2 separate regions of the Homo sapiens genome follow, and region 2 is linked to region 1. A link means that fine-mapping ties the variant in region 1 to the expression of a gene that starts in the linked region. Tissue or cell type: whole blood. Region 1 holds a variant in brackets; the other region holds the start of a gene. All regions are shown on one strand. Distances are from middle to middle.

Evidence for each region. PIP is the estimated chance that this variant, and not a neighbour inherited with it, causes the effect.
Region 2: MARCHF6 starts here. The variant in region 1 is fine-mapped to the expression of MARCHF6 in whole blood (TOPMed, PIP above 0.99).

Annotation. Positions count from the first base shown.
Region 1 is chr5:10,386,087-10,388,843 of GRCh38, forward strand. It overlaps MARCHF6 (membrane associated ring-CH-type finger 6), which reads left to right. Exons shown (of 26, transcript NM_005885.4): 5 at 908-980. Among named protein-coding and RNA genes, the nearest start is that of MIR10397, 15 kb to the right of the region's middle. The variant C/T (reference allele first, on the strand shown) is at 1,319.
Region 2 is chr5:10,352,217-10,354,973 of GRCh38, forward strand. It overlaps MARCHF6 (membrane associated ring-CH-type finger 6), which reads left to right and starts at 1,479. Exons shown (of 26, transcript NM_005885.4): 1 at 1,479-1,701. The coding sequence starts at 1,683. MARCHF6-DT (MARCHF6 divergent transcript) reads right to left here and starts at 1,841. Exons shown (of 3, transcript NR_183261.1): 1 at 1,756-1,841. RefSeq lists enhancers at 1,038-1,297, 2,144-2,715 and silencers at 1,438-1,577, 1,618-2,087.

The sequences.
Region 1 (2,757 bases):
CCATTTACCTATCTAAACATTTGGTTTGTCAGTTTTACATTGTTACAAGCATACTTGTCTGAGTATTTTATAAACATGTAAGTAATTTTTATTACAGAAAATCTTTTCCTACCTTTCCATTTTGACTTGGTTTTGAAAACAGCCATTGAAGTCACTGAAAATCTGATTGGAAGTCTCCGATACAAGGCTATATAGGGAATGCTTAAGCTAATACACAAATACTGGTTTGAAAGAAAGCCTCAGGTTTTTATTCTTGTGCCCCATTTTCAAATCTGTGGTCTGTTATCTCATTCTGTCTAGAATTCTGCTTTCCTGACTAAAAGACTTTCTGCCTTGATAGCAGTTCGTTCACCCATACTTTGTCTTTCTCTAAATGGCCAGAATTTAGAATAATTATATTCTGTATTTTAGAGGACCTGTGAATCTGTGCTTTTAAAATATTGGTTGTCAGGTTGCCATTTATGGCATTGCAGTACATACTCTACTGAAAAATTCTCTTAATTTCAAAGACTTATACCTCCAAAACTGAAACCTTTTATTGTCATGAGCAGACTTAATGAATTTTGGAATTCTAGAATTTAAAAAATTCTTTATATTATAATTTTGGAGATCTTTACTTTAGATTTTTCTTTTCAAACATCTAAGCTCATTCAATAAAAAAAAGCAACTAAACCTAGAGAGAATCTAAGTGCTAAACATGATTGTGTAACATTTACTCTTCATTGTCACTATATTTGTGCTTGACTGTGTTTTTAAAAATTTAATATTTTGAGACTTAGGCTTGTAAAGACTAAATGTTTATTTCAGTGGCATTTGTGGCGTTCCACTTTACCTCTGCTTTCTTGAGCAGCTATGTGAATTCATGATGCGAGTTGTGACTGTGTGCCATCATGCTCTTTTTCGGTAGGCCGCATCTACAAGTGCTTGTTTACTGGCTCCGTGAGCTCACTACTGACGCTGCCATTAGATATGCTGTCAACGTGAGTATTGAACCTCTGTGACGAATGTTGCATGATGTAGATGATGCTTGCTTTTTTCCTTGCATATTTATTTTATTATAATTTGTAAATTCTTTTGTTTTGAGAACAATAATTTATGTCTATTACACTAACAGTTATAGCTGCAGTAGAAGTAGCTGATAAATGTAAATGACACTTCTTTTAAAACATACCTGTTTTATGGGACTGTTTTGTAATGATGGGATGACTTTTCTTTCTTTCTTTTTTTTTTTTTTGAGATGGAGTCTTGTTCTGTTGTCCAGGCTGGAGTATAATGGTGCGATCTCGGCTCACTGCAACCTCCGCCTCCTGAGTTCAAG[C/T]GATTCTCTTGCCTCAGCCTCCAGAGTAGCTGGGATTACAGGCACTCGCCAGCATGCCTGGCTAATTTTTGTATTTTTAGTAGAGACAGGGTTTCACCATGTTGGTCACTCTGGTCTCGAACTCCTGACCTCAGGTGATCCACCCGCTTCGGGCTCCCAAAGTGCTGGGATTACAGGCGTGAGCCACCGCGCCCGTCCGGGATGACTTTTTAAATAGGCTGTCACGCAGTTTGAGATACATACTACTGTCTTATGTTCACAAAAGTTTTTTTGTTTTGTTTTTTTAAATGGAGCCTCGCTCTATTACCTGGGGTAGGGTGCAGTGGTGTGATCTCTGCTCACTGCAACTTCTGCCTTCTGGGTCTCCTACTTCAGCCTCCTGAATAGCTGGGATTACAAGCATGTGGCAGCAAGCCAGGCTAATATTTTGTATTTTTAGTAGAGATGGGGTTTCACCATGTTAGCCAGGCTCGTCTCAAACTCCTAACCTCAAGTAATCTGCCTGCCTCGGCCTCTCAAAGTGCTGGGGTTACAGGCATGAGTCACTGTGCTTGCCCAAGAGTTCGTTTTAACATGTGTTTTTAACATACACATTTGAACTCAAATTTATTTTTTAAATGTTTTCCATGATTATTAGAATATAAATGCTAAGAACTTGCCTGTAGTTACTTTACTATATCTTGATATTAAGCATTGTTGCTTGCCTTATATTGGCAGGCTTCTTTTTCCCTCTCACCTGATAGGCTTGAGGGTCACCTGAATTGCTTTCATTAGACTACTCATTGACTCCAGAGGACCACTGGAAGCCTAGTGGGGCTAGTCAAAATAAATTATAAACATGGCTTGGTTTTAGCTGTCTTTTACAGTTTGAAAAATTGAGCCAGTTTTTCTGATAGCAGTTGTGACCAAACTACTTTTTTTCTGAGTAATGTTTTACACTCTCTATAGAATTTTTTTTCTGTGAAATTTTACTTTAAATTTCCTTAATGTCTTACCAGTTTCTATGTATTCTGTAGCTCAGTAATTGAGGTCATGTCTAGGTGCACTGTATCAGTTATCTATTGCTGCAAAACAAACTGTCCCAAACCTTAGTGGCTTAAAACAGCTACCATTTTATTTGCTTATAATTCTGGGGTCAGCAGTTTGGGCTGGGCTCAGCTGAGCTTTTCATCTATTGGGCTTGCCTAGGTCACTCAGCTGTTTTACTGGGACTTAATGATCTAAGATGGTTTGTCTGAGATGCCTTGGTTCTTCTCTTTGTGGCCTCTTATCTTCTAAAAGGCTAGTAGGGCTTCTTTACATGGTAGTCTCAGGGCAGCATTCTAAAAGGGCAAGAGAAGAAGCTTGCAGGCCCTCCTCTGGGCTCTGGAACTTGGGCAGCATCGCCTCTGTCCAGGATTCACAAAACCAGCCCAGATTAAAGGAGTAAGGAAAAAGGA
Region 2 (2,757 bases), 34 kb before region 1:
ATACGTGCTCTGCTACAGGTCTTACAGGGAGGGTGAGCTCTTGGAGTTGGATCAGAAGGAGAGGGGCTGGGGAAAGATCGTCTTCAAATTGTTTCTTTGGCGGTAGTATATATAAACATATTTAGGCAGGGCATAGTGGCACATGTCTGTAACCCCAGCACTTTGGGAGGCCGAAGCGTGAGGATCGCTTAAAGACAGGAGTTGAAAATCATACTGGTCAATATAGTGAGATTGCAGTGAGCCATTATCGCGCCACTGCATTCCTGCCTGGGTGACAGTGCGAGACCCCTTCTCAAAAAAAAAAAAAAAAAAAGAAAGAAAAAAATCATAAGCAAACAACAACAAAAAAACAAATATAAAGAATGGCGGTCTGCTTAATTCTCCGTGCCAGCCCTTGAAATCAGTGGGTATTATTATGTAGAGTTTGAGTTCTTTCCTCCCTTGAGTAACATGAGTGACATCAGTAACATTAGTCAAGCGCTGCTCTTTTTGAAAGACTGTATTTCATTATTTTTATTCTAAACCTTACTCTGTTTGATGAAGATTGGGGGAAGAGCCCTCCCAATTCCACCGCTCACACATAACAGCGGTTGCTAGCATTCTTTATTTGTGCTAGGTCATCTGCATATTGTTTAAACATTTTTCGAGGCTGGAAAGACTGCTCCCACTCAGGCAATTCTGACGTGGCGGCCCTTCTAATTTATATTCTCTAAATAATTCTTCATTTAGAGAAAACAGTCAGGGATTACAGTGAGGGAGGGTGACGTGCTGACGGGGACAGAGCTTGGCTTTTGATCATTCTCCCCTTAGCTCTGCCCAGGCAAGCGTCCCTAACTCAGGGTATCGGAACCGATCTCCCTTAGAGGATTATGTTTCAACCACCAGCCTCAGCGGTTTACTCAAATGTCCTTCCAGCCAAATGCAGAAGTCTCCCTGGGAGTAATTTTGGTGAAGTCAGCTTTTGCCTTTTTCATCACAGGCAGGCTTTAGTAGTTCCTCAAAACGTGCACCACAACTGCCCGGCTGCCAAACAGAAATGCTGATGCCTGGGCCCACTCTAGCCATTTGGCCTCGGCATCACGGTGCGGGAGCGTGGGGCGCAGACTCGCATTGTCACAGGAACCTCCCGGCCTTCCGAAGAGCCCCGCGCCGGGGCCTTTGTCTCGCACGTCGGCTGGGGCGGGAGCTAGGTTCTCGCAGCCTCCTCCCACCGCTCTGCGCCTTCTTTGTCCCTCCAGAAGCCGCCATCAAAGCTCAGCTCCTGATTAGGTTTCGGCCCCGCTGGCCGGCGCAGTCTCGGCGACTACCCCAGGCGGCCTGGCGCACGCGAGGATTCGCCGCGCCCCAGATGCAGGTGCCTCCCCTCCTTAGCCGCCGACCGACAGTGCACGCCGCGGCCGCCGGAAGTGACAGCGCCTGTCGTTGGGGAGCTCCCGCCCCTTCCGCCTCGGCGCCCCGCCCAGGCCTCGCCCCTAGGTGTTCCCGCCCCTCCCCCTCCCGTGTCGCTCGCTTTCTGTCAGCCTCTCTCCCTCTCCCTCTCCCCTCTCCTTCCTCTCGCTTCCTCTCTCGCACCTGAGCGTACGCACCTGCCCGGGCCCGGCTCCCTCCTCCTCTCCCCTCCCTCTTTCCCCGCCCGGCCGCGGGAGCCTCGTGGCTGCGTCACCGCCGCCCCCCCAGACAAGATGGACACCGCGGAGGAAGGTAAGTCGGCGACGCGCGGCGCCCGAGCCCTTGCGTCGGCGCCCGGGTTCGTACCCCGGCCAGGTCCGCGGCGCTCGAGGTGGGCTGCTGGATCGCGGCGGGGCGGACGCCTGGGCCGTTTGTCCACCCGCTGGGCCTCTGGGCCGGGGAGCGGAAGGTGACCCTCTGCGCGCCCCCCGCCGTTTCCCGCCCGCGCCGCCGAGGGGGGCGGGGACCCTGCCGGGCAGGGGCCGGGGCCGGGGTCGGGGCCTCGGGGCTACTGCAGGCCGGCGTGGCCTCCCTTGTCCCCGCCGTCGCGCGCTGGCCCAGAAAAGGGGGCCTCTGTCGCTGCCGTCCGGGGGCGTTTTCCGCACCCTTCCCCCACTGGGTTTTGTCTTTCTTTACGTCCTTCTGCCTATTGCTCGCCAGGCCCTACCCCCTCGCGACAGAACTTCTTTGTTGACTTTGAAACTTCGCGAAAAATACCCCGCCAGATGACGGCCGAGTGGAGTGAGCTGACCCCTGTTGAAAAGCCTGGTCCTCGGCTTGCCTGCCGCTCGAGAATCTGTTTACTAAACGGGGAGGCTCTTTTGTTGCGATCCATTTGGTTTTAAATCCTTGACACCTATAAGCAGGGTTCTGTTTGTTTTGTTTTGCGATTGCTTGTGTTTTGGATACGGTTACATTGAACAAACTGACCCTTGTAAAATGAATACTTAAGATATAAACGTCCACACCTTATGTCTCTTCAAACGCATTTTCTTACCCACTGAAGGTAGTAGATTATTTTTAACCAGCTGTGTTTTTAAATGAGTGGTGAGTTTATAGAGGAAATTACTAAATTTTGCTTTTTTTGATGTTCCGGTTATCGTGCAAATGCTTTTCTACTTTAGGTATATTTATGGGGGTATGAGCGTCTTTCAACCTTATGGGTTGCGATTTTGGCGATTTTAAACGAAAATGAATTATCAAACGCCGTCATGGAGTGCAATAATGAGTGAAAAAAGTTTGATATTATCTATGTAATGAGTTGATAACGACTTATTTTTTTTTAAAGAAGTCTTGCCTTTAATAAAT